4 separate regions of the Homo sapiens genome follow, and all the other regions are linked to region 1. Evidence: fine-mapped expression QTL. A gene starts in region 1. Each other region holds a variant in brackets. All regions are shown on one strand. Distances are from middle to middle. Region 1 holds the start of EIF2AK4 (eukaryotic translation initiation factor 2 alpha kinase 4). Region 2 overlaps BMF (Bcl2 modifying factor). Region 3 overlaps FSIP1 (fibrous sheath interacting protein 1). Region 4 overlaps EIF2AK4 (eukaryotic translation initiation factor 2 alpha kinase 4).

The links.
Region 2: its variant is fine-mapped to the expression of EIF2AK4 in whole blood (INTERVAL, PIP above 0.99).
Region 3: its variant is fine-mapped to the expression of EIF2AK4 in whole blood (INTERVAL, PIP 0.98).
Region 4: its variant is fine-mapped to the expression of EIF2AK4 in whole blood (TOPMed, PIP above 0.99).

Annotation. Positions count from the first base shown.
Region 1 is chr15:39,930,076-39,938,182 of GRCh38, reverse strand. It overlaps EIF2AK4 (eukaryotic translation initiation factor 2 alpha kinase 4), which reads right to left and starts at 4,068. Exons shown (of 39, transcript NM_001013703.4): 1 at 3,844-4,068. The coding sequence starts at 3,987. RefSeq lists a silencer at 3,786-4,195 and an enhancer at 4,216-4,355.
Region 2 is chr15:40,094,340-40,102,429 of GRCh38, reverse strand. The region is part of intron 4 of BMF (Bcl2 modifying factor); the gene reads left to right. Among named protein-coding and RNA genes, the nearest start is that of BMF, 10 kb to the left of the region's middle. RefSeq lists enhancers at 3,275-3,844, 4,491-5,004, 5,678-5,727 and a silencer at 4,245-4,294. The variant A/T (reference allele first, on the strand shown) is at 3,749.
Region 3 is chr15:39,644,440-39,652,546 of GRCh38, reverse strand. All of the region lies in intron 10 of FSIP1 (fibrous sheath interacting protein 1), which reads left to right. Among named protein-coding and RNA genes, the nearest start is that of THBS1-IT1, 62 kb to the right of the region's middle. The variant C/T (reference allele first, on the strand shown) is at 3,916.
Region 4 is chr15:39,969,049-39,977,155 of GRCh38, reverse strand. EIF2AK4 (eukaryotic translation initiation factor 2 alpha kinase 4) reads right to left here. Exons shown (of 39, transcript NM_001013703.4): 10 at 4,142-4,248; 11 at 3,407-3,564; 12 at 312-742. Among named protein-coding and RNA genes, the nearest start is that of EIF2AK4, 39 kb to the right of the region's middle. The variant G/C (reference allele first, on the strand shown) is at 4,882.

The DNA.
Region 1 (8,107 bases):
ATGGTTCCAGCTCTCATGGAACTTCAGTCTGGTGGGGGAAAACAAACATAATAAACACATAAGTACAAGCTTAGAGAGTGCCGTTGAAGAGATGACGTGGTGCTCTCCTTAACAAACGACTTGGGGTGTGAGGGTATATACTTAAATGTGGTTATCAAAGAAGAACTATCTGAGGATGTAGCATTGAAGCTGAGACAAGCCAAGAGACCAAGCATTCCAGGCAAGGAAAAAAAGAGACTTGAAATACATTTGAGAATTATTTCATTCAGTAACAATTTTTGAAAGTTTTTTGTTTGTTTTACCAGGCACTGGGCTTGTAGGAATGGCATTTCAAATGAGTGGAAGACACTGAAAAATTCAATTGCCTATATTTGTCTAGCTGCCTAGCTGGAGGAGGAGGGATGCACACGGGGAGGTGGCCTAGGCCCGTACTTTGATGGAACGAAGAACTTAAAAAAAAAAACCTACTTATATCTTTATTTGATGAAAATTTAAAAACGAAGTCATGAACAAGTTAAAAGTAAACTTTGACGAATTTGGTTTTTAGTAACATTGGAACAGAGGGGGAAAAAAAACCCACAGGGACCATAAAAGAAAAAAAAGGTCATTTTGACTCTATCAACATTTTTTAAATCACATAAATTACGTAAATAAATGCATATAATTAGGAGAAAAATATATGCATTATATGACCCAAAATGCTAGTTTTCTTAAGATATTTAGCTCTTACAAATAAACAAGAAAATGGACCACAGAGTAGAAAAATAAACCAGAGTATGAGCAGTTCACAGAAAAAGAAAAATCAATGGTTTGTAAACAAAGGTGTTCTAGATAATTTATAAATAAATAAAAATTAAAATGAGATATGTTTCATTTATGTGGCAAAGATGAAAAAGTCTAACATATATAGTATTGTTGAAGATAAAGGAAAACAAACACCACCATACACTACTGGGGGATCCAGGGATTGAAGCAAGTTTTTTGGAGGGATGTTTCCAAAAGCTATCAAATTATAAATGAGCAGACCTTTTGCTGCTGTGGAAAGCTAGCCAAAATAAGTTAGTAATTTGTAACTATCTATAAATTATAGATACTTTAAACTAGCAGTGTCTAAACTTTTTACAAATGCAAAAGTTTTTAGCATGCACCTCAAAATGTTATTTATAAATGATATACATATGCTACTAAACTGAAATTTATATTACAACACATCCCCACTAAAAGAAGTTGAAAAAAAAATCTAACCTGAATTTATTGGCAGCAAATTTAGCCTGAACTGACATGAGGTTAGTTATAGTGTTTATTTGTTCAGTGTGAAATTTGAGTATTTCTATGTTTCATTGTGTTTGATTTTCGATGCTGCCCCAGACACTGAGGAAGGTATTAGGTAATGTGTGGAATGTGCACACATAAACGTGAACAGAAGCACTTCTGAATTCTGAAACCCATCAAGTCTCAAGAGTTTTGGATAAAAGGCTGGGCACGGTGGCTCACACCTGTAATCCCAGGACTTTGGGAGGCGAGGCGGGAGGACTTGAGGTCAGGAATTCGAGACCAGCCTGGCCAACATAATGAAACTCCATCTCTACTAAAAATACAAAAATTAGCCAGGTGTGGAGGCGGGTACCTGTAATCCCAGCTGCTCAGGAGGCTGAGGCACAAGAATCGCTTGAACCTGGGAGGTGGAGGTTGCAGTGAGCCGAGATTGCTCCACCGCACTCCAGCCCGGGCGACAGAGAGAAACTCCCTCTCAATAAAGAGTTTTGGATAAAGGATTTTGGACCTGCATCACTTTTCCCTGGCAAATAGCAGGTGATAATAAGTGCTTGTTGAATGACTAAACTCTGATTCATCCTTGAGACCATCAATTATTTGCCTGCCAGTCCTATGAATGTGTTGAGGCCATTTGCCCGGTGTACAATAGGCCACAGACAGCTATTTAAATTCTTCTGCCTGCCTTCTATAGTTTTTGCTTTGGTTTGTCTAGTATTCCATCTTGTTATGAAAGCCACCAGCTATAAATTCTTGAGGTTATCAATATCCCTACCTAAAAGAAGTTGCTTTTTCTCTTCCATTTTTCTGCAGCCCTAGGAGCAGACAACTAAGCTTGTATAAAGTAAACAAACTAGTTCAGAATGAAGCCTTAGGAGCTTTGTGTTGAGTCCCATGTACACTTTGAGACACCTATTTTGGCTGCTTCTTGGGCCTACTTCCTGATTCTCAAGGTTTGGGAAGATAGAAGTTCCCCAGTCACCAACTTCTCTGTCATGTTAAGGGGAATAATTTATATTTTTACCATTTCAGGTTAAAAATAACTTCATATTATTAAGCATTAGAAAAGTAAGCTCCCTGAGGGCAAGGATTTTTGTCTGTTTTGCCCACAGCTGTATTCCTAATGCCTAAAACAAATATTTAATGAAGGAAGAAGCACCCTGAGTTTGAGAGAGAATATTTTGTCCTGATAGCTCCAGAAGATGGTATTTCTTGAGGAAATCCTGGATGTGTAGATAGAGCAGATGTTGTGAAATGCCAAAGTTAAAAGCAGATGAAGAGGCCAGGCGCGGTGGCCCACACCTGTAATCCCAGCACTTTCAGAGGCCAAGGTGAGAGGATTGCATGAGCTCAGGAACTTGATACCAGCCCGGGCAACAGAGCAAGACTCTGTCTCTACAAAAAATTAAAAAAATTAACCAGGTGTAGTGGCATGTGCCTGTAGTCCCAGGTACTTGACAGGCTGAGGCAGAAGGATTGCTTGAGAATAAGCTGCAGTGAGCCGTGGTCATGCCTCTGCACTCCAGCTTGGGAGACAGAGCAAGACCCTGTCTCAAAAAGAAAAAAAAAAAAAGCAGATGAAGTTAGAACTATGTTTTAAATGATAATATGATAATATTCAGAAATAGTTTGGTAGATCAACTCTTCAAGGATGGGGAAAAAACTGTCAGTATAAATACTTTATAACGTGCCTTAATTTCCAGACAAAAAGGCAAAATATTATTTTAAACAAAATGCCATTTTAAAAGGTCTAGAGCTAGAGCAAGCTGGTCTAACCCGAGGCCCATGGGCCGCTTTGAATGTGGCCCAACACGCATTCGTAAACTTTCTTAAAACATTGAGGTTTTTTTGCGAATTTTTTTTTTCTTTTAGGTCATCAGCTATCCTTAGTGTTAGTGTATTTTGTGTGTGGCCCAGGGAAGCCAAAAGATTGGACACTCCTTCTCTAGACTCAGTCTAGAACCCTCTCTCTACTACAGCTAAGATGAATGTGTGCTTTATTCTGAGCTAAATGTCTTAGAGGAAGGTGCAGAGGTATGGAAAGTTCCTCCATACCGGAAAACACAGTGAGGATGCCTGGGGAGTACAGAGGGAATTATGTGGCGTGCAGATTTGAATGCATGGATGAGACTTGAGAATTCTGATTGAGGACGTAAGGCCTGTGCGAGAGCCCAAAAAGCGTTCTCAGAACAAAGTAGCAAGGGGCGCGTATGAATTGCTGTGGTATCATCCGCAAGGGCTTTCAGAGGGGAAAAAGGACAAGGTTGGAAGGAGGCAGTTATGTTATGGGATGTAGGCAGGAATAAGAAGCAGTGCCAGGTAAGAGGGAGGAATCCAGGGGGATTCCTCTGGGGAAATCATGGGGAAAGGACTGTAGAAGAATTCGGCCTAGGTGGGATTCTGCAGACCAGCTGCAGGTGCAAGGACTAAAGTGAGCATGGGTGGAACCTAAGGGATGAAAAGACTGCAGGATCCTAAAGCGGCGGCCCAATCTGGAAGTGTCCGGGCTTTGGCCCAGGGCCCGGGGAGGCCAGGGCACGCCAGCCCGGGCCTGACAAGCCACGTTCCTACCGGTCCGCAAGCGTCCGGCCGCAGGTCTTGGAAGTCCGCGCCGTAAATGGCCTCCAGGGCCTGTAGCTCGTGGTCCTGTCGTTGCGGGTAGCTCTCCGGAGGCTCGTCCCGGCCGCGCCCGGGGGCCCCACGGCCCCCAGCCATGGCAGCGCTGCGCCCAAGGCAGGGCGGCCTTGCCTGGGCGGCGGTGGGCCCCCGGCAGCCTGCGGGGCGGGGCTCCGCGCTGGGGACGGGCTATGGGCGGTGTTCCACGCTGGAAACGGGCTCGTGGGCGGGGTTCCGCGCCGGGGACGGGCCGTAGGCGGAGCTCCGCGCCGGGAGCTAGCTCCGGAGGCTCCAGAAGCCCAGGCGAAGGAAGAAGGCAGGGGGACAGCTTTGCCCACATCCTGCTGGGGGAAGGGGAGCAAAGGAACTCCACGAACTTAAGAAATGAATCACAGATAGGAATGAAAACGCCACATTGTATAGTTTTCACGAAACAAGTATCTTTAACAGAAGTGCTTGCTGGAACTTCTCCACCCTGGCATGGCTAGTGCGGGAAACTCTTTTTTCTTTTTTTTGGCAGAGTTTCGGCTCTTGTTCCCCAGGCTGGAGTGCAGTGGCGCGATCTCGGCTCACTGCAACTTCCGCCTGCCGGGTTCACGCGATTCTCCTGCGTCAGCCTCCAGAGTAGCTGGGACTACAGGCGCGCACCACCACGCCCGGCTAATTTTTCTATTTTTAGTAGAGATGGTGTTTCACCATGTTGGCCAAGATGTTCTCGATCTCCTGACCTTGTGATCCGCCCGCCTCGGCCTTCCAAAGTGCTGGGATTACAGGCATGAGCCACCGCGCCCGGCCGGGAAACTCTTAAAGGGCAGACGTCGATGGGTTCTGAGGTCACTTCTAATTTCACCTTGTACCTTCCCAGAACAAGACTACCGGGAGTAAAAATTGTGACCCCCCCCACCCTCCTTCCTCCCACTTTAGTACCCCCAAACTTATTCTCTGAGCCACAGATTCAACACCCTCATTATGTTCTCTGTCTCTACATTCCCCAGCTTTGGGGATCTCCACTACCACCTTGCAAATTCAATTGAAAACTGTCTTTCCACTCAGGCATCTTTATGAGCTACCTTCCCATGAAGAGAATCATGTTCCCTTCCCAGTTCACTCAGTGTGAATTTAGGGAGTCTTTGTGTTATATCCTGCCTCAAGTCGTCGTTTTTCAAGTTTATAAAATAATAACCTGTCTACCCAGACATTGTTATTGCACTTCATCTTCAGTAACTTACTAATGCTGCATGTCCATTTCGAATAATCCTATTGTACTAACCCAAGTTAGGTTTAAGTGACGTTTCTTCTGTCTACCTTGCTTACTCCTCCACTGTTCACTAAATAATGATTGTGTAAATTCCTTGCTGCCATCTATCCACTCATTTCTGGCCAGATAACACAAATGCACTAGCTTGACCCAAGGCCAATTTAAATCATCATCTTCCCTCTGCTGGAGACCCGTTCCTTCTCCAGTGATCTCTGACTAGGTAAATGGCACCATTCAACTGAGTGTGATTCTGAATTCCCTTTCTCTCAACTCACATCCAAATAGTCACCACTTCTGTCCATCCACTACACTCTAACCCATTGCCACTAACTTAGTTCAGGCTACTGTCACCAATTCCCTGGGTTACTTCAATAACTCTCTTAATTAGTCACTGTCTTCATTCTTGCCCCACATTAAGCCATTCTTCCTATTGCAGCCAGAGTAATGTTTCTAAATTGCAAATATGGCCATTGCACTCTAATCCTTAAAATTACTCCATTTCTCTATTGGTCTTTAAAAAAATTCTTTTAAACCTATATTTATGAAAATGTCAAACATACTTAGAAGTAAACTCCTCTGTACTCATCATCCAGCTTCAACAACCATAGATATTTTGTCAATTTTATTTCATCTCTTCTCTCCATCCCTCAGGAGTGTTTTTTTTAAGTCTCAATCATATCATTTTAAAAAATAAATACCTAAGGATATATCTCTAACTAGAAAAGGAACCAACATAACATATTACTAATCTTATACCCTAAAAATGTAACCCTTTGGCCAGGGACAGTGGCTCACACCTGTAATCCCAGCACAAGGTGGAGGATCACTTGAGGCCAGGAGTTTGAGACCAGCCTGGGCAACATAGCGAGGCCCCATCTCTACAAAAAATAAAATAAAAAATTAGCTGGACGAGGTGACATGTAGTCCCACCCTCAGGAGGCTGAGTGGGAGGATTGCTTGAGCCCAGGAGTCCAAGGCTGCAGTGAGCTGTGATTGCACCACTGCACTCCAATCTGGGCAACAGAGTAAGACCTTGTCTCTTAAAAAAAAATTAACAATTTCTTAGCATCGTTTAATACCTAATCTATGTTCAAATATTTCCATTGTGTAAAATTAGAATCTATACTGGACGCTGGACCTATAAAAGATATAATTAAAACAAACAGCAAAATTTGAAAGGAATCTGTGGATTACATGGCAGTATTATACCAAATGCAGCATTAAGGGGGCAGTGACGTATTAAATATGCAGTTAGCTCCCAAATGATTCAGGAAAAAGAAGAGAGATGATGCTAAATCAAATGTAGAATGTTGAACATTGGAGAATTTAGGTGAAGGATATATGAGAGCTCTTTGAGTGACTTGAAAATTTTATGTAAGTTGGAAATTATTTTAAAGTCAAAGTTCAAAGCAAAAAAAATAAGAAACTGTCAAAGTGTTTTCCAAAGTGGTTGTACCACTTTATATTCCCATCAGTTTATGGGAGTTCCAGTTGTTCTACCTCTTTGCCAGTAATTGGTATTGTAATGTTTTTAATCTTAAACATAGTAATTGGTGCTTAGCAGTATCTCAGTGTGTCTTAACTTGCATTATCCTAATGATTAATGATGTTGGGCATCTTTTCATGTGATTATTTTCCATTCATATATCGTCTGTCTTCTGTTTTTATTCACATCTTTGGTGCATTTTAAAAATTTTGTTTTTGTTTTCTTATTAACTTTTGAGAAATATTTATATATTCTGGACATGTATTTTTTTTTTTTTTTTTGAGATGGAATCTCACTCTGTCACCGAGGCTGGAGTGCAGTGGTGCGATCGCAGCTCACTGCAACCTCTGCCTCCCGGGTTCAAGCAGTTCTCCTGCCTCAGCCTCCCGAGTAGCTGGGATTACAGGCATATGCCACCACGCCCAGCTAATTTTTGTAGTTTTAGTAGTGACGGGGTTTCACCATGTTGGCCAGGCTGGTCTTGAACTCCTGACCTCGTGATCTGCTCGCCTCAGCCTCCCAAAGTGCTGGAATTACAGGTGTAGGCCACTGCACCAGGCCGGACATGTCTTTTATCAGATATGTGACAGGCAAAAATATTCACCCAGTCTGTGGCTTGCTTTTTCATTCTCTTAACTGTATTTCAAAGAGCATGTTTCTTACTTTAGAGGACATTTAATTTGTCATTTTTTTCTTACATGAATTATGTTTTGCAGTCATATCTAAGAAATATTTGCCTATCCCAAGGCCAAAAAGGTTTTCTTCTATGTCTTCATCTAGATAGTGTTAGATTTTACCTTTTGGCCTATCATCCATTTTAGTTAAAAACTTAAGCATATACCTACTATATGAAACAGCAATTCCATCCCAGGCATTTACCCAAGAGAAACAAAAGCGTATGTCCATACAATGACTTGTATGTAAATATTTGTAGCACCTTAATTTGTAATATCCCCAAACTGGAAACAAACCAAATGCCCACCAACACAAGATGGACATATTGAAGTATAAACAAATTGAGGTATATCAATACAATGAAATACTATTCAGCAATAAAAAGAAATACATTATAGATACAGCAACAACATAGACAAACTCAAAATAATTATGCCGAATGAAAGAAGGCCGACATAGAGTACACACTACATAATTCCATTTACATAAAATTCTGAAAAATACAAATTTGGTAACAGAAAGAAGATAAGTGGTTGCTTGGGGATAGGGAGGACATAGAAGAGCCAGGTGGAGGGATTAAAGTGGAACAAGAAGAAACTCTTGGGAGTGATGTCTGTATACATTCATTATTTTGATTGTGGTGATCATGTCACAAGTATATGCATATATCAAAACTTATCAAACTGTACAATTTAAATATATGCAATGTGTTATATGTTTACTATACCTTAATAAACTGTTAAATGAAAAAAGGAAAAGGTCATTTTTTTGTTTTGTTTTGTTTACAGTGGTTTGTTTGA
Region 2 (8,090 bases), 160 kb before region 1:
TTTTTTTTTTTTTGGCTCTTTCGCCCAGGCTGGAGTGCAGTGGCATGATCTCGGCTCACTGCAACCTCTGCCTCCCCAGTTCAAGCGATTCTCCTGCCTCAGCCTCCCGAGTAGCTGGGATTATAGGCACGCACCACCACACCTGGCTAATTTTTGTACTTTTAGTGGAGACGGGGTTTCGCCATGTCAGCCAGGCTGGTCTCGAACTCCTGACCTCAGATGATCCACCTGCCTCGGCCTCCCAAAGTGCTGGGACTACAGGCGTGAGCCACTGCGCCTGCCTTGCCCTGCTTTTTGCTGGTTGGCATCACTTCTCCCAGTTCAGAGCTGCCTCTTTGCATGCACAGGTTAGTTTTAGACAAGGTGTTGTGCTTTTAGCCAGAGCCACCCAAGCTGGGGAGAAGGAAAGTGGAGGTGCAAGGCATGAGAGTCTCCTCTGCCTTGCACCTTACTCCACACTGGCTCCCAGGTTTCCTGTACCCCTACCCTCCTGCCATCTACCTACTTCTTACTTACAAGGGTAGGAGGCTGACCAGTGAGCCTTTTCTAGCTCAAAGAGCTGGTTTTCCCAAATTTTCCAGTACAAAGAGCCAGGGTTTTGTCTTCTCCTTAAACAGTTCTCCCCAGAGTCTTCTTGCTTTTAACCCCCTCCTCCCCACTGACCCTACTTATAGACCTTCACCAGGAACTCATCCTGCAGGAAGGGCTAAGGTGATGGCTTCAGGCAGGTGGAACACTGGTACTCCTGGAACGTTTCAGCAGCTGGTTTTGAGAAGTGAGTCATTTTCTAAGCTTGATTCTTATATAAACTACAGTCTAAGATTTCATATCTAGAAAGTACTGTTGTCACTCCTCCATTCTTATCCTTTATCTTCTTTCCCTATTCCCTTCCCTCATTTTTGCAGGCAGAGAAACTGAGGCAGTGGGAAGGAGGTTATTTAGGATTTAGTTTCTAGGCTTTGGGTTCAGAGTCAGAAAGCCCAGGTTTGAATACCAGCTCTGCCATCTACTAGTTTTCAGGAAGTCACTTGACTTCACTGAGCCTATTTCCTCTTCTATGAATTAGTGCTAATACCACAGAATTTTACTGTGATAATTAAGTGAGAAAATACCTATGAGAGTTTGGGACACACAGTAGATGTTCTTTAATGCCTGTTTCCTTCTTTCTGTTTATGATCCTGATCACCCCCGACGTTTGTTCTTGTTGGTTCACAATTCATTTCCCACTCCACCTGGCAGGGGACTCCCTGAGCAGAGCTGCCTCCCCTGAACTTCCCTCCACCTGCCTGGTCCAGAGGAATTAGTGTCCAGACTGATCATCTGTGGACCTTGGCCTTATCGATTTCTCTTCAGGGAATGATAGTCATTCCCCATCATTGCGGGCTGGATTTAGAGAGCCAAGAAAAGCAACCCTAGAGGCAGATGGGACTTGAGGAGGCCTGACCGTCACCTTTCCCCTACATCTGGGATAGTGTCCTGGGGCTAGACAGTGGCCACTGGTCCATAGTCCTGTGGAGAGTGTGCACTCCCCCTTTTTGTCCCTGGTTACAGACCTGAGTTACTCGTTTTTTTGCACCAGAACGACCTTCTCCCTTGGAGGTATGGAGCAGAGGGAGGGGGCGTGCTGATGCCATGAAATCCCAATTGAGTGTATCGACCTGGCTCCAGATGCAACAGGTTCCAAGTTTCCCTGGGTGTCGTTTTACGTGGGCCATCTGCACTTTCAGCGCATTTCCCAAGAGCCTTGCTAGGTGGAGGACTAGCCTGGTCACCCGAGTTACCAGTTCAGGGTGACTCTTCCAGATCCACAGGCAAAAAACCGGAGGCAGAAGATCAGAGTTAGCAGGGTGCTCCGCCTCAGCTCTTTGTGTCTCCAAAGCAGCAAGAGAGTTGGAGGCAGAGTGAGTGGAGGTAAAAACCTTTCAGAACCTCACCACACATCCCACCTTCCTTTGGCCGGGGCAGGAGTGAAGGTTCCCCTGTTTGCTCCTCTGTGAGCTGACAAACTGTGGCAGGGACCCCCGATGGTCTGCTGATAATGACTTATCTTGAGGGTGGTGCTGTGGTGCTTCTGTGTCCAGCTTCTGCATGGAAGAGCATGGTGCAGATGTACTTCCTCCCTGAGCCCCTGGGCTGCCCTGGCCAGAAGGTCTGAGCCCCAGCTTTCCTGTCCTTGTGCCATGGCCTCATTCAGCACGAGCCTAAGGAGGGGCAGGAAGTGGTATCCCCTCCCCTTGGGAGAGTCTTCTGTCCCAGTGGCCCATCATGACATTTGGGGGTATTTCTGGGCAATGTTAAGAAGCCAAGAATCCTCAAAAACAGTAGTTACTGTAAACAGTCGAGTGAGTAAAGCTACAGGAGGGTTGGAATTCTTCATGTTGGAAATGGCTTTTTCACTTGGACCAGGAGTGGCTCCATTCAGAAAAGCCGGGTTTGGAAATCTCTGAATAGTAATTAGACTTTTTGGCAAATGAAATCTGAGAAAACTTTCAGCCACTCAGTTGAAACCATCTTTAGCTGTAATATCACAAAAAGGATCCTAGACTTGTAGGCAGATCTGTTAAAATCCCAGCTCTGCCACTTATAAGTTATGTGTTCGTGGGCAAATCATGTAATCTCTCCAAGCCTTTTTTTTTTTTTTTTTTTTTTGGTGAGACAGCGTTTCGTTCTTCTTGCCAAGCTGGAGTACAGTGGTGCGATCTCGGCTCACTGCAACCTCTGCCTCCGGGTTCAAGTGATTGTCCTGCCTCAGCCTCCTGAGTAGCTGGAATTACAGGCATGCACCACCATGCCTGGCTAATTTTTGTATTTTTAGTAGAGACGGGGTTTCTCCATGTCGGTCAGGCTTGTCTTGAACTCGCGACCTCAGGCGATCCGCCCATCTCGGCCTCCCAAAGTGCTGGGATTACAGGTGTGAGCCACTGCACCCGGCTTAGTCTTGGTTTCTAATACTTACCTTGCCTAGTTGATGTGAAGGGCCTTTAGGAGTTGTGATACAAATAACTATTAAGTCAGGGACAGTTGAGTACTTTTAGAAATATGTTAAAAGATGACTTTAGGATTTTGCTTGGACCTGACTTTGTAATTTGGGGAGCTCTTTTGGAAGTTGTACCCGAGTTGGTGTTTGCATGGTTTATTAACTAGCAGCTTCTCTGCCTAGCAGACTGGATCCTTTGTTCAGGGAGCCCCTGATTGCTTCCTGACACTTTGGGATTCTCTAGTTATTAGTGAGTGGTTTTCTGGAACTTAAGCTGGCTAACTAGGTTGCTCAGCGTCTAGATGGGACAGCCCCGGGCAGGGGCCCCAGAGGTTTGCTATAGAGTGAGATGGGTCCCTAGGAAGCCAGCCTCTGTCCCAGGAGTGGGAGGCCCACCTAGGACAGTGCCAGGGGAAGAATGAGGCTGGGGGAGGGACTGCGGAGAGCCAGAGTGCGTGAGAGCCAGCGCCGGGGCTGGGGGCCCTGTGTTTGCTCTGTGGCTGGCTCTGTTTATATCGCTCGCTATATTTAGCTTCTGAGTCATCAGCGTGGCAGACTAGAGGCTGAGTTCCCCACACACTCTGCACCTGACTGCTCTCTCTTCCAGGAGAAGGGCCTTGTAGTTCCGGAGAGTTCATTCCCTCCCCACCAAGGCCTGCCATGGGATGGAAATTGGCTTTTTTTTTTGGAAAGTGGGTGATGGGAGGAGGGGACTAAGGGAGACACAAAGAAAGAAGGTTAAAGAAAAATGACTGGTTTGCCTTTTGATCC[A/T]TGTCTGGCAGCCAAGAGGTCATGTTCCATGACCAGAGCACACAATCAGTCCGTGTGTGAAGGGGAGGGTTCCATCCTTCCTCCTTGCCTGGTTTGCCTTGACCTGGTCCTGGACAGGACATGAACAGTCAGCTGAAAAGACCCCAAGTCGAGTGTCAGAACCTGGGGTTATTTTGCATAGCATAATACACACAACAGGCTTGTCCCCCGAACCCCCTCCCTCTCCCTTCTTTAACCAGGGCACACACCATTGTGCCCTTCTGAGCTCTGAAGAAGTTGCCCAGTAGTTTGATGGAGCTGTTCTCAGCTTGAAGGAAACTGAGTAAGGGTCTCAGTAGTTCCTCCCTCCAGGCTGTGGAGGTGCAAAACAAGGGTCTGGGGACATGGATGGTGCAGCACAGCTCTGTCCCCGAACCGTACCCCTCAACCCCCAGTGGCTGGAGCCAGTGTCTTCCAGTTGCGTTAGAGGAAGCCTTGCCATCTTCCACTGAGAGCTGGCTGGCTTCGGACTGCTCTTTTTTCCTTAGAGAAGCAATGGGCGTGGCCATGGTGGCTTCAATGTCCTGTTAACACTGCTGGCTGGGCTGAGGAAGCTCTTGGCAAGGAGTCTTTTTTTTCCTTTTCCGTTTTGCCACGTTGCTCGTTCCTCGGGCCTCTGGGTCAGAAGCAGTCTGAGGCAGTGGGCCCACTGGGTCCAAGGGGTTGCCCTCTGGGTTTCAGAATCCTTGGCTTACCCTGGCAGCCTAGAATCCTGAGCCCCATGGCCTGTGGCTGCTGTGGGCAGTCTCAAAGCAGAAAGTCAGGGATCTCCCAGGGATTTCGTGAGTCTGCCGGGAAGATGGTGCTCCCCAGGCCGGCCCTGTTGCAGAGCATATTGAGAGACGTGCTCTGCAAAGCCAGTGAGTCCCAGGTTTTCCTTGTGCTCCCCAGGGAAGGAGGAGCCTGCTCCTTGCAGCCCCCAGGCCCAGTGCTTCATGTATATTTTTCTTACGTAATCACCACAGCAACCTTGGACTTTTAGACTCCATTGCCACTGTGTTATAGGAAACTGAGGCTCAGAGAAGTGAGGTAACATGTCCAAGTCACACCGTAATTTGCTGAGCTAGGCGTCATACAGATTTGATGGATTCTGGAACCATGGTCCAATCGCCCCATACCTGCTGCCCAGCAATCACATTCCGGAAAACAAGGGTACAAGGAAGCACACATTTGCTGCCCCAACCCGCTCTGCCTCATGTGATACTCAGCTAGGTGCTCTTGCTCTTCTCCCCATTATATTGTAAAACAATTGAGAACCAAGTTTATAATATTTTAATCATCTTTGTATCCACATAACTCTTAGCTCAGTTGGGTGCTTAGTAGCTCAGTTGGGTGCTTGGTAGCTCAGTTAGGTGCTTGGTAGCTCAGTTGGGTGCTTGGTAGCTCAGGTGTTTGGTAGCTCAGTTAGGTGCTTGGTAGCTCAGTTGGGTGCTTGGTAGCTCAGTTGGGTGCTTGGTAGCTCAGTTGGGTGCTTGATAGCTCAGTTGGGTGCTTCATTAAAATGTCCTTATTTCAACAGAAAACATCTTCCTAGCTTCCTTCAAGCAGGAATTTTCCTGCTCTCAATGTTCCTGTTCTTAATTGCAAGGCTCTTTCTTTCAGCCTTGGCCTGAGTAGGTTTAGAGAATGACAGGGAAAAGGGAAGAGGGAGGAAAACTTCACATCGTGGACTGTGCACCTTCCCCTAGAGTATAGACAATTCTGCATTTTGAAGAGATTGAGTGTGGTTTCAGATCACAGTCTGAAGTTATAATTTCAGACCAGTTTTAGCTTTATTTCTGTTTGATCTTCAGTTAGCTCTGCCTCTGAAAGGGTTATTTTTTTCTGGTCCACAGCGTCCTTACTAAATAGTTAATGATCTGGAAACAATGTCTTTAAGCATACTAGGGGAGCAGATCAGTGGTGATTTGCTTTGAAAAAGGTAATGCTATTTTCATAATGTCAATAAACACACTGTAAAATTTTAGTGAAGGAACATAGCTTTGGAGTCAGAAGTCAGGGCCTCAAATTACACCCCTCCCAACTAACTTGGGATGACTTTTCTGAGCCATTGTTTCCGTCGCTCTAAAATGGGTTGATTAATACCTGCTCTTCCTATCGTGAGGATCACATGAGAAGAAAGGAAAGTGCTCTGTTCTGTATCTGAGATATTATAAGTTGCTCTCTGTTTGGTAAATTTGCATTTTGTGAGTTAGGTTCTTTTAGAGCTGCACACGGCTTCGCTTTGCTTCTTCCTCTGATACTTTGGGGTGAATTAGCTCTAGCTGGAGCATCTGGAACACTGGTGACACACAGAGCCCCCAGAGGGTATGAATTGGATCTGAAAAGGGGAGAGGCAGAGGGAGATTCTTATCCAGGGAGCGTAGGGAACACGCTTTGTGCTTAGGGCAGAGGCTGTGTGGGATGAAACAGAGTTTGATTTATGTAATCCAACCTTGTCAGACACCACAGCCAGCTCTTTAGAGAAAAAAAAAAAAAAAAAAAAAAAAGGAGGCCTTTTACTAGTTGGGCCTCTCCCCAGGTGTGAGGCTGATACTATCACATAAAGTACATCTTTAGACCTGGCCAGACATCAGTTGTTCCTGGCCTCAGACAAGTGGGTTATCTTTCAGGGCTGACTCCTCTGTAGTCGGTCCAGCATGCCCTTGTTGAGTGCCTACTGTATGCCTTCCATGTTCCCCATTACACAGGATGAGCAGCTGTGCATTCAGGCATAGGGTGTTGCACACAGTAGGGATTGAAACATTTGTCAGCTGACTGCCTTCATCCCCTGTCCGTGGCAAGAAAATGAGGCTGGGCCAAAGAAGCCGCATGGGGCTCTGATGCCTGCTTGTGCTCTCTTCATTGAAGAGAACACCGTGATCTACCATGTTAGGGCACCTTCCCTGGGGGCATTCACCTCTATTCATTCCCTCCATTCCTTGGCCCTGCCTTCTAAACCATGTGAGTCCGAGGGCTCTAGGGTGAGCTTCCCCTCCTCTGTATCCCAGCCCCGACCCTTGGGTCACCCTGACTGTGTATTCTGGGAACTCCCATTCTGTGAGGGGTTCCCTAGCTGAGTCTAGGAGGGCAGGCCTGGTTCTGGGGATCTGCCCTTGTTGATCTCAGATTGTGCGCTGGGTGCTGTGCCGGGTGCCTGAGGGTCAGAGGCCAAGTACACTCATTCCTGGTTCCCCTCTCTTCCCCTTCTCCTCCACACCCTCTTGTGGAAGATCCCACGTTCTCTGGTGTTTTGGTATCTTTGTGTTCTTCATCCTGTTCAGTGAAGGCCAACTTCCTTCCTCCTCACTGTTTCTCCCACTGGCCTCCCTTCAAGTCTTTTTTCTTTCCTTTCTAGTCAGGCCCTTTTGTTAAACTTTTAGGAAAAATTTTATTTATTGTTGTATTTTGTAATCAGGGCATTCTTTGATTATCTTGGTTTCCTCATGGAAAAGGGTCTTGTGAGGGCTGCCCTGAGGCGGGAGAAGGCCAAAGGGAGCCTGTGTGGTATCTGCTTGTAGCCAGAGAGGGCTCATGGGCCCATGGGTGGTTCCCAGGCCCTACACTCAGCTGACAGAATTCAGTTGTTGGAGCTCTGAGTTGTAATCCTGAAGGTAGTCGTGGATGACAAACTCCTTAGGGTTGGAGAGCACCTTTGTGGTTTCCAAAAGGCTGTGGCCTGGCTGCCACAGAACCACCTGGGCAGGATTGACCTCTGGCTTGGCCAGTGGGGTAAGACATTACTTTGGTGGAAAGAGATCGAAAGGGACTGAAGAAAACACCAACACGTGAAGTGTTTTCTAGCCTGGAGGATCATGAGTGACTTTATTTCCTCCTCTGTAATGTCTTGTATTTTCCAATATTTCTACAATTAACATGTATTGCTTTTATGATTAAAATATACAATAAATGATTTCTGATCTCTAAAATGTCACCAAGGGAGCTTGTTCAGTATACAGATTCCTGGGACCCTTCCTTGAAATTCTGACCCAGTGGGTCTGGGAGAGGCCTGGAGACTCTATACTTACAAGAGCACCTCAGCTGGCTTAGTGACACAGTTGGGTTTAGAAACCATTGATCTAGTACAATACCTGCATTTTCCTTATAAGCCAAGAGAGAACTCATGAGCAGGTTGATGGGAGATCCAACCCGAAAGCCAGGTCCTCTGATTCCTGGTCCCTGGGGATCCATGCACCATAGAGCCTTCCTTACCAATTCATGAGCCTTAAGGACTGTCACACGCAGAGGCATGGAAACTAGTTCCTTCCCAAGGGCCGGCCCATGTATCCTGCCTCCTGCACCTAGGCCTGCCTGGGTCCCCTGC
Region 3 (8,107 bases), 290 kb after region 1:
AATGTTTAGGTAGATGAAATCTTTTGATTAATCACCCGAAATGTGCAAAATCTATAGCAAATTTTTATTTCAACAGCTCTTAGTCCTATATATATAAGTTGAACTTGCTTCTATAAATACAGATGCAAGTTCAAAATATAACTAACAAAGTACTGCTCTGAATGTAGCAAATGTTTAGAATTCACTTTTAATCAAAACATCACTTCTTGCTCTCTTAATAAATGTACTGGAAAGCATTTATCTAAGTAAATGAGTTGAAGTTGTATTCCAAAGGACTGAGAATTAAACTTCATTCTTGAATAGCACTAGCATTCTTTTTTAAAATGGTAATATTTAGCCCGATCCTCCCCTTCAGACTTAACTTTACAGAAAGCAACAGTGTGGGCTCTGAGGCTGAGCTGGAAGGGAACTATGGAGGTCATCTATTCTAATAGTTTCTCAACCCACTCAGAGTCACACAGCTGGTTATTGACATTTATGGGAGTGTAACTTATGCCTGCTGCCTAGGAAGAAAAACATCTCTTCCATTCACCCCTTTATTTGTCCTCCAATCTGTGTGTCAAGAATTGAGCTGACTGCTTTAATGTGGCTTTGTCTAATTTCATCTTAACTTCTTTCCCCATTTAATTGCATTAAGCTTTCTTTGATGATGTGAATTGGGGGAGATAGATACGTAGTGGTTGAAAGGAGGAATCTATTAAAGGCAAAAGAGACCACACGATTTTATGGGCTTTTCCAACTTGTATCTAACAATTTGTATAGGTTGACTTAGAACAGTGCAGAAAGAATTGGCTTTCAAATCGAAGTGAGGTAATCTCCAGAGGTTTAATAGAATTCTTTCTAACTGTCCTTTTTATAACAATAACACTAGTCAAACGATAATCATAGTAACAACAACCATAAGCAAAAAAGCAATAACAGTCACACAATGATGTGTTAAGTGTTTTGAATACATTATTTTTTTGAACACCCAGGACAACTCTATGAAATAAGCCCCATTTTACAGATGAGAAAACTGAGGCTTAGAGAAGTAACTTGCCCAAAGTCACACACCTGCTGTGAGGAGGAAATAATGCACTTTTCATTCATTAGAGCTTTCACCAGATGTCATATTTATCTATTTTTTACAGATGGTTAAAAGAATAATATGGAAATTTGAGTTGCTTGTCATTTTGCATTAAACATTGTGTGAAAATCACATCAATGTCACAAAATTTATTGGAATAATGGAATAGAGATTGTTTTGACATTCATCATTTCCAGAGTCTTAGAATTGTGATGATCTTTTTCCAGTGGGCTCTGGAAGCTTAAGAAATTTAAGATTTGTTAACTTAGGAAACCCTACATTATAAAACAAATTGGTTGGTTGGTTGTTCATCCACTAGAACCTGAAGTATAACTAGATATGGAGACACATGACAGCTGTTTTTCATGGGTTCATGTCCATGGGTTCATGCCCACCCTCCCATCAGATGACTTCCTCTCTCTGTGGCCCATGCCCTCTGGGACTCCATCTGACCAGTTACTGGCTGCACTTGGGAAACGAAGGAGCACTGCAGGTGTGGCTGTTGCTGTGATTGCCGAGTCATTCCCTTCCCTGTCAAGTAAAGCCTGTGTTAACTCAAAGCCAAATGACAGGAAACCTAAATTAATAGGAATTGTTTTTATTCGAAGGAGGAAAATCATAAGAAAACAAGCTATTATTATATTAGTAAGAAAGCAGAGCACAGAGACTTCCGAAGAATGTTCTGGGGGTGATATCTGATTGTTTAGCTCTTACCTTTATAGGATTGTACAGTGAATACTTATTTAAGAATCACAACGCTGAGATGCTGTACGATAGACCGTCAGAACTGGGAAGTTCCCTTCTTGTTCAGATGAGGACGCTGAGGCCAGGGAGGTGGTCTACATAAAGTCGTTTTCAAAAGTGGTGCTGTTGTCTTTTTGCCATTTCAACCTGTCTCAGCCATCAAAGATCCATTGATTGTACTGCTTACTAAGGCAGGGAGGTAAATAAATACATATTAGAAAACTTTCCCCAAGGGTTGAGACAGTATTTTTTGGTTTACTCTTTACTTTTAGTCATAAGGGAGGACTTAATATTTTGGGTATTTGAAAAGGACAAAGATGTATAGAAAGAAGACAGAGAAGTAACAGGATGATACCATATAGCCAGCAATGTGATTAAGTGATAAATTGTGTGGTACCAATTTTAAATAATAGTAGGCAACATTTCCCAAATAAGATTGTCCTGGGATTTCAGCAATTATACTGTAAAATTTTTATGGCCAAGGAATTTTGTGAAATTCTGAATATTATATAACCCTCTTAGGAATTCACAACTGATGGTAGCTTATTAAAGCCTCTGAGAATTCCATAGTAGAGAAACCTGTCCAACTGAGTTTGAACCAGAGTTTCCAAATTTATTTGAAACAGAATGTCTGAAAGTATTCTAGAAAAGTGCTGTGTGAGTTCAGGTTGCGAATGCTGATGTGGGGAATCCCGAGGATAAGGACGCTGAGTGGGGAATCAGCACAGCTGAAGAGAGCTTTGTGGAGGACTTGGCATTTGAGCCAGGCCAGCAGGAACAAAAGTGTGGGGCCAGAAATGAGCACGAGGCCTGACACTCAGCTGGCACTCAATAAGTGTTTACTGAGTAGGTATGTGAGTGAAAACATGATTTCTATGGAAGGCAATCGGGATATTGGCTTAATTAGAATGAAAAGGTTGGGGAACGTGGAAATAAAGTTGAAGAGGCAGATTCTTCTGATTAGAGAGGGTCAAGCTGAGTGTTCAGGACTTGATCCGACAGGGAACGCTTTGTTGGTTCCTGGGCAGAGGACGACGGCAGAGTAGAAAAAGTGTCTGGGAAGAATAGCCTGAGAGTGGTGTAGAGTCAGGCAGGGATGGAAAAGACCAAAGTACAGTGAAGAGCAAGGAGCCTTAGAAAATGATGCTAACCTCTGTCTGGGTAGTAGTAGGTCACATATTGATTTTTATATGTGCCTAGATAAATGCAAAAGCAAGAGATCTTTTTAAATATAAGAAGTAAGCTAGAGTAAATTCCATCTCAGTCATTTCTGGTATCTTGAAAAACAAAGGGATAGTAAAGTATTATCAGAATAGGTGGGACAAATGTTCTTGGAGATTGAAAACTTGAAGCATTTCTACTCGGAAACTTATAGTGTCTTTATGACTAAAATATATTTGACCCTTATGCTTGCAGGATGTGAAATTTAGGATAAATTACTCTGTCAGGAAACATTACCAGCTAGAGTTCCTGGAGTGGGAGCCACACTGGCTTTACAGGTGTTTTTGGTCTTTTCATATTGCAAAACAGTTTATGTGAATAAACATAATTTATCCTTATACATCTTATTCCAGCTGAAAACTCTTAAGACTCTTAAGTCCCTCCTCTTAAAGAAGACTGAAATCGTGTCCAGTCAAATGTGTAGGTGTTTATGGTACTCAGCTTTTGAGCTATTGGTTGTTTCCGTTTGCTTAGTTCTCTTCCACTCACTCTTAGGCTGGATAAAGATTTCCATTCCTTTTTGGGTGAAATATTTTCCATAAGTTACAAAAAACCCAAATAAAAAAAAAAAACTTTGCACAAGAAATCCCAGTCTGAAATAGCTTTCCTTTTTAAATAATGATATAAAATAAAGATAGAACACATGATAATTATAGTCATTATTACTTGGTGGCTTGAATGCTCAGATTATTTGAAGGGGTCATCTTTAAAATGCCTGCCTCTTTATTCTGTGATTTACTGACTCTTGACCTTTATAATTCAGTTTATAATTAAGACTTTCCCAAGAAGTCTCCCTGATAGGCCCCAAACTACCAATTACATCACACATTTCACCATTTCCAACCTACCTTTACTTTTGGGCACCAATGTTAGTATCTTATTTA[C/T]ATCACTATAATTTTAAAAATCTGTTTAACTTACTTCTTCTGAGTTACTCCTGGGTTCTTAACTGCTATACTTGTGTTTTCTTTTCCTAACAAGGTGGGGTCTTGGAAAGCATTGGTCTGTGTCAGTGGTTCCCAACCACGGCAGATGAGAATCACCTGGAGAACTTTTAAGAACTTACGATGCGTATGTCTCACCTTCTAAGGTTATGATCTAGTTTGTGGAACCACTGGTCTACATCAAACCCAAGTTAAGCAAACATTATATATTGTTAGTGAGTAGTACAAAACCTTCAATTCTATGGACATTTGGCAAATATCTTATATTAAGGTAGAGACTAAAATTAAAATTTAGAATTCTAGAAAATTTCAAGCTGCCAGTACAATCTCAAGTTTCTCTAATTTTTCTTTTTTTTTTTTTTGGTAGCAATTTTATACTAGATTCTTTTTTTTTCTTTTTTTTTTTATTATACTTTAAGTTTTAGGGTACATGTGCACATTGTGCAGGTTAGTTACATATGTATACATGTGCCATGCTTGTGCGCTGCACCCACTAACTCGTCATCTAGCCTTAGGTATATCTCCCAATGCTATCCCTCCCCGCTCCCCCCACCCCACCACAGTCCCCAGAGTGTGATATTCCCCTTCATGTGTCCATGTTATACTAGATTCTTGTGTGCATTAAATACCAGTGACTAACTTACTTTTGATTAAAGGGCAAAGCGTAGTGATATTAATTTATTTTTGGATTTCAGACATTCTATGTCATGCAGTATTTTTCCCAATATAACAGTTTAATATCTATTTGTCCTTATGCAGTAGATTTTGTTAGAACATTTAAACATAGACCTTTTGGAAAATTGACCTTAAGAAGTCTTTTTTTTTTAATGCCTTCCCTCTCCTATTCATGGTACATGTGTGTTTTCATTCTATTAAGTGATAATTTTTTGAATGGCTGTTCTGAAGCTTTAAGTGTAAATTTTTTTCCTATGTCCTGAGACTGTTAGAAAACACCAAAATCTGAGTAACATACCAGTGATGTCATGGGGTAGAAAAGATGTGGAAAGGGTAGCACAAGTCTCTTCTGGGTGTAGGTTTGGCATGCCCAGGGCCAGAAGGGACAGAGGTGGATACCTGAGCCCTACCATAAGGCAGAGTCTCATATGTCAAGTGGAATAAACCCCAGATGATGCATCCACAGGGCTTTTGTTTTTGTATCTCTTTTTTTTGACCACCAAAAAAACCACTTTTTTAAAATTATATATATTTGAAGTATACAACATGATGTTTTGATATACATTGTGAAATGGTTATTATAGTCAAGCAAATTAACACATTCATTTCACATAGTTACCCTCTTTGCGTATGTGTGGAAAGAACACGTAAAATCTACTCTTTTTGCAAGAATCTCAAATAAAAGGCAGTATTACTAACTATAGTCCTCATGTTGTATGTTAGACCTCCAGACTTGTTCATCTTACATGTCTGCAACTTTGTATCCTTTTATGTATATCTCCCCATTTCCTACCAGTCTCACCACATCCCTGGTAACAACTACTTCTATCACCCCTGGTAACAACCACTTTATTCTATCTTCATGTATTCAACTTTGTTTTTCTTTTTTTAGATTCCATATATAAATGAAATAATGCAGTATTTTTCTTTCTGTGTCTGGTTTATTTCACTTAGCATAATGTCATCCATGTTCATTCGTGTGGCAAATGGCAGGATCTCCTTTTTTAAGGCTAAATAATATTTCTCTGTATGTGTGTATATCACAGTTTCTGTATCCATTCATCCATCAACAGACATTTCAGTTGTTTCAGTATCTTGACTATTGTGAATAATGCTGCAATGAACAAGGAAATGTGGATACCTTTATGAAGTTAAGTGGTGATTTCATTTCCATTAGACTTTTTTTTTTTTTTTAAGAGACAGTGTGTCACAGTGTCACTCTGTATCCCATGCTGGAATGCAGTGGTGCAATCATAGCTCACTGTAAAGCTCAAACTCCTGGGCTCAAGTACTCCTCCCATCTCAGTCTCCAGGGTAGCTGGGACTACAGGCACACATCACCAAACGCAGCCTTTTTTTTTTTTTTTTTTTTTTTTTTTGTAGAGATGAGGTCTCGCTATGTTACGCAGGCCTGTCTCGAACTCCTGGCCTCAAGCAATCCTCCTGCCTCAGCTTCTCAGAGTGCTGGGATTACGGCCCAAACCAGTAGTGTTAGGAGATCTCTTGGGTGTCGATTTTTCTGGTGGGAAACCTCTGTGGCCCCAGCACCTTTGCCCGAGTTCTTGTCCTGCATCCAGGAAAAATGAGGTACACAGACAAGTGAAGGGTGAAGAAGCAGAGTTTTATTTAGTGTTAGAACAGCTCAAAGGAGTGAGTAGCTCCTCTCTACTGGCAGGTCATCTCTGCAGCTCTCAGCAGTGAGGGTACTCCTCTCTGCAGCTGGTCTTCCCATCGTCTCCAGCTATCAGCAGACAGGGTAGTCTTCTCTGCACCTTGTGGTCTGCTCCCATTCTCTCTGCCCTCTTCGTCCTTAGCCATCCTCTGCCCTGCTCTGGCTGAGTACAGAGCTTTTATGGAGTTCAGAGAGGACAGAGTGCATGCCAGTTGGTCCATGGGCAAGCCAAAGAGGCACCATGAGTCTCCTCTCCCGTCCACAGGACTGGCAGCCCGGCCCCCAGTGTTCAGGCCAGGGACGGCCTGAAAGTGGGGCCTTACTGGGGACCCTGCCCCCTTCCACCCCGGACTCTGTCTGCCTCCTGCTGCCGTTCATGGCCCTGGGGCTCGGCCCCAACCCCGCTCCGAGATTGGAGCTGGGGACTGGGAGCGGAGAGAGGCCAGGCAGTGGGAGCAGACACCCCTGAGCCTTCAGGGACAGGGGCAGGGAACCTTCCTGGGGTGCCCGAGGGTGCAGGCTGCAGAGACGCCCTGCACGTGGGAGGGCAGCAGCAGCTGCAGCCAGGAGCTCCGGCCTGGCCAACTCGGAAGAGGCAGGGCTCCCGCTTGTCCCCGGCTCCTGCCTGCTTCCCAACTGGGAGTTCCAGATCTGCAGCCACCAGTGCCGTGGCTCCAGCTGCACCCAGGAGGGCAGATCCTGACTGTTCCTGGCTCCCCCAAGAGCACAAGGGAGGCTTGGATTCACAGCTGTAGTTTAGGTGGCCTGTAGCCTCACCCAGGAGGGCGAGGCTCCTGCTTGCTCACTAGAGCAGGAGGCCTGGGTCTGTAGCTGCAGTTTGGGTGGCTGCAGAGGCACGTAGCTCTCTTTCCAACTCAGAAGAGGCAGGGCTCCCACTGGCTCCATGGAGTGTGCAGCCCCAGCCACGCCTCCCTGCTGCAGCTGACATGATGGCAGCAGCCACTGTATCAGTAGTTCTATTTTTAATTCCTTTAGGATCCTTCATACTGTTTTCCACAATGGCTGTACCAATCTACATTTCCACTAAGAATGTAGAAAGTTTCTCTTTTCTCCATGCCCTCATCAATACTTGTTATCTCGTCTTTTTGATAACAGTTATACTAACAGGCATGAGGTGATATCTCATTGTGGTTTTGATTTGCATTTCTCTAATAATTAGTGATTTTGAGCACTTTTTCACATAGCTGTTGGCCATTGTTATGTCTTCTTTGGATAAATGTTTTTATATCTCTTAATGACAGCTTTGTTCTGAAAAGTTTCTTTTGACTATAACTGCCTGATGATTGTTCAGCTCACTTATATGTGGATGAGAAATGGAATGATACCATTTTACATCAGCAATTTGAAAACTTGAATTAAATCATTTTATTTTCTCAACCTTTGATGGCAGCCGGCCTTGGAATTTCCTGAACAATGAGATGCCAGCTATAAAACAGGTTTACCTTTAGTTACAAATTCAAAAAATCCTCTTGGCTAAGTTTTTTTTTTTCAGTACTTGCCTGTAAATCATAGTGCTGAAAAGTGCTTTTGAACATTGTGTATCTAGATACTGCTCCTCATCCATGGTGGAGATGCTCATTTGTCCCAGCTTCTGAATTTGAAACTACTTTGGCAGAAGTTCTCATGAGTTCTTGGAGACCATAAAGCAAATCATGGGCAATTAAAACAAAGGTCTCTCCCCTCGTGTCTCAGATGCACACCTGAAAAGAATCATCCTGGCAGGTTTGACTGATAAATGGGCTGGAAAGGGGATGCATGGCAGCCTGG
Region 4 (8,107 bases), 39 kb before region 1:
GTTTTGTTTTTGTTTTTGTTTTTAAACATGGTCAACACGTCTGGATTTCTAAATGAATCCCCTTTTCCCTGGCTTGGACTTGGTGGGGATTAATGTTGGGGGGCATTCGCTGGCCCGGGAGGCGGATGTTGCAGCCAAGGACGCGCCACTGACCTCCAGCCTGGGTGACAGAGCAAGACCCTATCTCAAAAAAGGAAAGAAAGAAAAGAAGGAAAGAAGGAAGGAAGGAAATGAAAGGAAAAAGGAAAAAAAAATAAAGAAAGGAAACTAGGGGGCGCATCAGAGGCAGCTGGTCCGCGCCGTGCGCTTACAGGAAGGACTGGGAGAAGACGCCACCGTGCTCGTCCTCGTCGTCGTCCTCGTCATCGCTGGAGCCCGGGCCGGTGGCGGGGAAACGGGCACTGGCCGAGCGCTCGCCCGAAGTGCTCCACTCCACCGAGCTGCTGAGGATGGGTGGCGGCGCGGCGGCCTCTACGCTGTCCAGGCCGTCTGTGTCGCTCGCCGGCTGCCCGCGTGCAGCTCGGTCATCCTTGGCCAGGGGCCCGGAGTCCGGGGGCGGCGTCCCCGGTCCCGCCGGCCGCTCGTGCCGCTCGATCCAGGCGTTGTAGTAGCGCACAATGTTCTCATGGTGCAGCCGTGACAGCAGTGTCACTTCGCCCTTGATCCTGCGGAACTGCCGGCTGGCCGGGTTGATGGGGATGCGCTTCACTGCGTAGCAGCAGCCGTCCAACTTGTTCTGCACCTGCGGCACAGCCAGGGGAAGGTCAGCCGCTCGGAGCCTTGCACAAACAGGCATTTGCACCGCACCCCATCCCCTCCCAAGGAAAGCGTGAAGTTCTAAATGAGTCCCACAGCTACAGTCAAGAACCACATGCCTGAAATTCTTAAACTGAAGAAAGCTTTGACTGCCACAAAATTCAGAAAACAGCCCACCCGACTCTAGATATATTTAGCTTGCTGGGAGACCCTGGGGAAAACATAATCTCCATTTTAATAATTAATTTTACTGACAGTTACCTCCCTGCTTTTCCAATGTATCTGCTATCTAAATTTCTAAGTGTCTTGATTTTAAGATTAAAAATTATTTTCTAAAGTCAGTGTAAAGTTTCAGATGATTTTAGTTTCTCTCTGATTTTTTTTTACACTTAAAGTCACTAAAAACAAATTAAACACCAAAAATATTAACAGACCTGAACACAAAGGTTAATTCCTTGATTTCTAAAGCCGTGTGAACTTGGGAAAATTACTTAATTTCCTTGAGACTCAATTTTCTTATCTTTAAAATGGCATTTATACCATTTCCACTACCCCAAATGGTGACTGTAAAGCACTTGTATCAAGGCCTCACAGAGAAAGGTGCTTAGCTTAGTCAATAACAGCAATTGCTATTAACACAATCACTGCCCATTGATTTTGTTATATACCTAAGATGATGTATACTGAAACCAGAACAATACAATTAACAACACAGTAAAATAATAAGAAAGCAAGAAAACGTTGCAAAGGCAAGTCCTCCCATCCTACATAGAGGCATCCTTATGCCAGGCAGTTTCACTATGTAATTGGGGTGACTGAAGTAACTTTTACAGAGTCTTATTCACTGAAACCTTGTAGTCACATCCGTGCAGGTCAACTGAGGTGATGATATACTCTAGAAAAGCAAATGCCATGTGGCCATGGGTGGCAGGAGAAATTAGTTGATTACAAAACACAAAACAGAATATCATTCTCTTGTTTGGCTCACAAGTTTCAATTAAACTAATAAAAGTCTAAGTGAAGTCCTGGGAATAAGAAGGAAGTACTACAAAATTGAGTTTCAGATTATCTTTTTTTGTATGGAAATAGTGACAAGAACACACACTTTGTAGTACAACAGAGGTGGGTCTGAATGCTGGTTTTATCTCCCTTATCTCAGGCAAAGGACATAACCTTCTCTGAGCTTCAGTTCCCTCATCTAGGGAATGAGGATCATACCCATCTCGTAAGAATGTCCTGAGATTTAAAGACAAGGTTTGTAAATCACCTGGCACACAATCTGAAATATGGCAGGTGCTCCAAAAAATGATAGCCCTGTGTTCTTTTACTGCCACATTAATAGGGAAGAGGACAGTGTAGGGCGGGAGGTGGGGATCTTGGCATTGCCTTTCGATCTCCTGTCTCAGTACACATCATATACGAACTGGGTTGGGAGTAAAGCTTGCTATACTGGAAACCCCTAGGAATTCATTTACTGAAGTGAAAAGGTGCAGAAACAGTAATGGGTCCAACTGCTAATGAATGCCAGATCACTGGGCAGGCTGCCCTACTCTGACACAGAAGCACAGAGGTAGGAGGTGAGGGCTGTGGATTCTCACAGGGAGAAACTACTGGAAACCGTGGGGGCTTAAGTTACTCAGATGTTTTTGTTATATGAGCTTGCCTATCATTATTAAGTACTTGTAAAGAGATGAAATTTGTTACTATTCTACGTTCAAGAATTTAAAATAGAATGAAGTTAAAGGATTTGATCAAAATGATATTGTGTTAAAGGGACAGTATACGCTTCAATCATCCCCTCCTCTTAGACATAATTATGATCTTTCTGATCAGGACATCTGTCTTGCTTGTCTGTCTTTTACCACAGGAAAACTAATTTAATTCCTTTTTTAGTGTAAAAGTTTTTCTACAGTAACAGTAATGCTTCCTAATGATACTCTCAGAATCCTTAACAGACAATATACTCAGTTGATGGTGGGTTACCTTCATATGTGAAAGATGACATGTACTGTATATGGACTTAATACAATAATCTGGGTCTCCTAATTTACAAAGAAATACTTCTATTATATAAAAACAGCTGAAACCTCTTTCTACAAGGGGCAGATAATAATAAAAGTCACCCAAATAGACTAGAACGAAGAAAGGAAGACCCAACAACAGTGTACCTTAATAATACATCGCTACTTTCCTGTCCCAATAATAGCTGGAAAATAAAAGCCATCGAGACCTGCTGGGGCCATCTCCCAGTTTGAAGTCCATCTCTCTTCTAACCTTAGAACCTTTTTATCTACAGCAACTCTAACAGCAAACAGGAGAAAAAAAGAACAATGTTCTTTCTGAACCAAAGCACACAAAAATGTTCTTTCTGTGGAGGTCTTGATTCCACTTGAAGTGCTGTTATAACCATGTGTGTTTCATGTTAATGCTCCACATGAAGCAAGGAAAGAGGAGTGGGACAATTCTCAACTGTGTCCAGCGTAACTTAAATAAAACCTTTAACTCCAGGAAGGTGAGGATGAGCATAGTATCCAACAGCCATATTCACTTCCCTCCCCACTCCCAAAATAAAAGTAAAGTCCATGAGTCTTTGTGGAAATGGAACAGAGAAGGAGCTCTAAAGGGGACTGGGAATGACTCTGTACCACACCTTGATGACAGCTCCAAAAGCTCCTTTACCAAGAAGTTGTAATTCTTCAAACTCAATGAAGTATCGGGAAAACTGTCTCTGTGTCTCACTAAAGAAGGCAGCACTGGGTAGCCGGTTGCTAGGAATAACAGTCTCAACATAATCTTGTCCTTCAGAATCTGAGATAAAACAGGGAGTAAGAGGCACATGAGGCATTGGAAATTTAGGAAGAGCTACATAGCCAACAATGATGGAAGCCCTGGAAGAAGAGCTCCAACCAGTAGTTTGAAAAATTACCTCTTACCTGAGTGGCCTTTTAAAACTTTTCCTCACCTTGCCCTCCTTAAAGTAGGCAGAAATATATAATTAGCCCAAGTTTACAGGTGGGGGATTATATAGAATAAGTGACTTAACTATAGAGCTAGAACCAAAACTCAGGTCTCATGATCCATCCCAATCTCTACCGAGGTTCCTTAATCTCAGGTGCAGCAGGAAAAATCTAGTTACATGGCACTATGGGTGACTAAACACTACAAGAGACTACAGCAATGGACATTCATTCCATCAATAGAGACTAGAAAAATCAGGGTGGCAAAACAGTCCCATGCACATGGCACACATCAAACTAATGGATTTAGTTCAGAATAAAAGACATAAAATAACACATGCAGCCCCTTCCAGTTTTTGGTTTATGTATACTTTCAAAATAATTTAATGTCAAACAGGTTACCAAATAAAGAAAGGTAACAGACTCACCTTCAGGACTTTGTTCCACTAGAGGCATTTTTGGCTGGGGATTTATAAAGCTGTGTTTCAACAACTGCTGGGGACTCCATCTTTCCTTGTCATCCAAGCACACACATCTCGGTGAGAGGGAAGGAAGAATCTTAGCATCACAAACAATCAGTGCTAAACTAGTTAATCCAAGGCATTAACTATGGGTTTATTTTTTAAAGATACACATTATAGAATTCATGTTACTCAAAGACCAGAATGTACTCTCATAGGTGAATTTAAATTAATAAACATTCCTGCAGGATTTACATGCTATGCGACAGGCTGGGTACAAGAGGCGAATCAAAAAAAGGCATCTCTAGATGAGAAGACTTACCCTCATGGAACAATTTTTTAAAAGTCTAAGGTAGCACAAGTAGGCTATAAATTTTCACCTCGATGAACAGTTTAATGCCTTGTCATGCCAAACTAAGCCTTTGCAGGAACCGGTTATAAATAAAGCTTTCGAAAGACAAAGCAAATCAGAGAGTTGGTGCAGCAGAGTGGCTCAGTATGACGAGCTTTAGATGAAGCCTGCTCATTACAGGATGAAGCAAGTTGGAAACATTTAGGGAAGGCTTTTTTAAAGTCCCATATTCTATTGCATACTTTTTTTAAAAATTGGTTTATGCTTTTTTTTTTTTTTTGAAATAGGGTCTTGCCGTATCGCCCAGGCTGCAGTGCAGTGGTGTGATCTCAGCTCATTCCAACTTCTGCCTCCC[G/C]GGCTCAAGCAATCCTCCCATCTCAGTAGCTGGGACTACAGGCAGGCACCACCAGGCCTGGCTAATTTTTATATTTTTTGTAGAGATAGGGTTTCACCACACTGCCCAGGCTGGTCTCCAACTCCTGAGCTCAAACAATCTGCCTGTCTCGGCCTCCCAAAGTGCTGGGATTACAGGCGTGAGCCACCGTGCCCGGCCTCATATACTTTCTTTTAATCTTCATTCCTTGAACCCATTAACTTACTGTTTAATGGTGTAATAGACAATTCTTGTTTTGTTTTTTAATGAAGAAAAACAAGCCATACCTTTAACCCAGGGCTTCTCAAAGTGGGGTCCCTGGCCAGTAGCATCAGTATCCCCTAAAAAATGTTAGAAATACAAATTCTACTATACCCCTGACCTAGTAAATCAGCATCTCTGGAGGTTTGGACAGTGATCTGTGCTTTAACAAGAGCTCCAAATGATTTCAATGCAAGCTAAAGTCTAAGTTAAAGTCTAAGTAGTTAAACTGTAACTGATTTAAGCTGGCCTTTTTTTTTAATTTTAATTTTTTTTTTTGAGATAAGGTTTTGCTCTGTCACCCAAGCTGGAAAGCAGTGTTGCGATCATCACTCATGGCAGCCTCGAACTCCTAGACTCAAAGCATCCTCTTGCCTCAGCCTCCTGAGTAACTGGGACTACAGGCGTGTACCACCATGCTGGAATGTTTTGTTTATTTATTTTCATTTTATTTTATTTTATTATGAGACGAAGTCTTGCTCTCTTGCCCAGGCTGGAGTGCAGTGGCACTATCTTGGCTCACTGCAACCTGCAACCTCTACCTCCCAGGTTCAAGCGATTCTCCTGCTTCAGGCTCTCAAGTAGCTGGGATTACAGGTGAGTGTCACCATGCATGGCTAATTTTTGTCTTTTTAGTAGATATGGGGTTTTGCCATGTTGGCCAGGCTGGTCTTGAACTCCTGACCTCAAGTGATCTGCCTGCCTCAGCCTCCCAAAGTGCTGGGATTACAGGTGTGAGGTATCACGCCCTGCTGTGCTGGAATACTTAAAAAAGTAGAGATGAGGTCTTACTATGTTGCCCAGGCAGGTCTTGAACTCCTGGACTCAAGAGATACTCTCACCTAGGCCTCCTGCAATGCTGGGATTACAGGCATGAACCACCATGCCAAGCTACTTTCATTACAACGGCCCAAGTAGTACGACTTGGTAGCACTTGACCTATAATTAAAACAATATACTTAAAAGAATCAACTGTCGTTGTGAGTTCTGGACTTAAAAATCTATACATACAAAGTGGTGACAGCAACTATCATAAATGGTAACTTTTTTTTATGTTGCAGCAGTAAAAAGCAAGGTACTCCTAATTTCATAGCTTGAACAGGCAAAAAAATTCTAATAAAACCATTTGTATAAGATACCGTATTTTCCTTTAAATTTAAAATTACTTTTTAATTATATCATTAAAACATATATACCTTCTCCTTGCAAATATTAAAACATTACTGATAATGATAAAGCCTTTGACCAACCTCCCCTTCCAATTCTTTCTTCCACTTAGGGTGTCTCATTGTAGAGATTTTTCTATGCATTTATACACATAAACATACAACCATCCAAACAAAATAGTATTGTTTTTTGATTTTTTTAAGCAATATCATCTTATATACATTATTCTTCAGCTTGCTTTTTTCATTCCACCATGTGTCTTGGAGCTCTTTCTAAGCCAGTACTTAAAGATTTTTTTTAAACTTCTGTATAGGCGTGGACCTACCAGAATTTATTTACACATTCTCCTACTGTTGAGATTATTTCCAATTTTTCACATTTTCACAAAATGCTGCAATGAGCATCCCTATATATGCCCTGTTGGGTTTCTGAATTGCGTTATCAACTGTAACTCAACTGTGACATAAATGTTATTGACTTGAAAGTAAATCTGGATCAGAAAAATGTTACAGCCTACCTAGAATGCACAGTATTTTTAAGAGATTTATAGCCACCAAGATCTCACTTTAAAAATGAACTTCTCTGAATCAATAATTTTGGCAACAGGGTAGCCGTATATAGAAAAGGTTCAGCTTTGAACAAAAAGGGATAAAATGCCTGGCAACACCCACATTTCTTCATAGTTCTCACTACTGAGGATGGTGATGAAAACCAGCACTGACTCAGTCTGGGCCAAGTGCCAGGCACTTTATGGCTGTTAACTAATTTAATCCTCACAACCACCTCATGAGGTAGGCAGTGCTATTATCCCAGTTTCACAGAGGAGGAAACGCAGGGCAGGGGGTTAATTCACTCAGCCAGTAGGACATAGAGGTGAGACCTGAACCCAGATGTTTTGACTCCAGAGTCTTACCCATCACAGAGGCTGATTTGAAACAAAATCTTGCTCCAAAGGGTGTTCACTAATATGTAAAAATATAACTACAAATGGAAGGTTGCTGTTTTCATTCTTTGTGAATGGCATTTTTCTTTTGTTAACCAGGGCTGGACAGCAAAGTTCATAAAAACAGTTCTTGGCAGCTCCTTAACCAAGCACAGTCTATCAAACCACTCCAGGGAGAGAAGTATACAAAATAGTCTAAAGAAAAATCTTGTTAAAAGAATAAGAAGGCCATGCGCTATGGCTCACGCCTGTAATCCCAGCACTTTGGGAGGCCGAGGTGGGCGGATCACGAGGTCAGGAGATTGAGACCATCCTGGCTAACATGGTGAAACCCTGTCTCTACTAAAAATACAAAACATTAGCCGGGTGTAGTAGCGGGCGCCTGTAGACCCAGCTACTCAGGAGGCTGAGGCAGGAGAATGGCGTGAACCTGGGAGGCGGAGCTTGCAGGAAGCTGAGATCGTACCACTGCACTCCAGCCTGGGCGACACAGCCAGACTCCATCTCAAAAAAAAAAAAAAAAAAAAAAGAATAAGAAATTGTGCTGATCTCAAGTTTAAAACTGACAGAGCATACAGCTATTTAAGAAGAGAACTAGGAAAGTTTTACCTACCGAGCCCATTCATTTTGCTACTAAACGGGAAAGGAAAGGTACTTCTACTTAAACCTCCCAGTACTGTTTTTAACAACACATGATGCTATTGCTAACCTTGACTAAATTACTCTTCATCAATGAAGAAGGCAGAACACTAAAGGTGACATTTTGAAGATGGAAATGAAACTTTCCATCTGTGATTCTATCATCATATTTGTCATTTTGGCCAACCTCATTGTTAG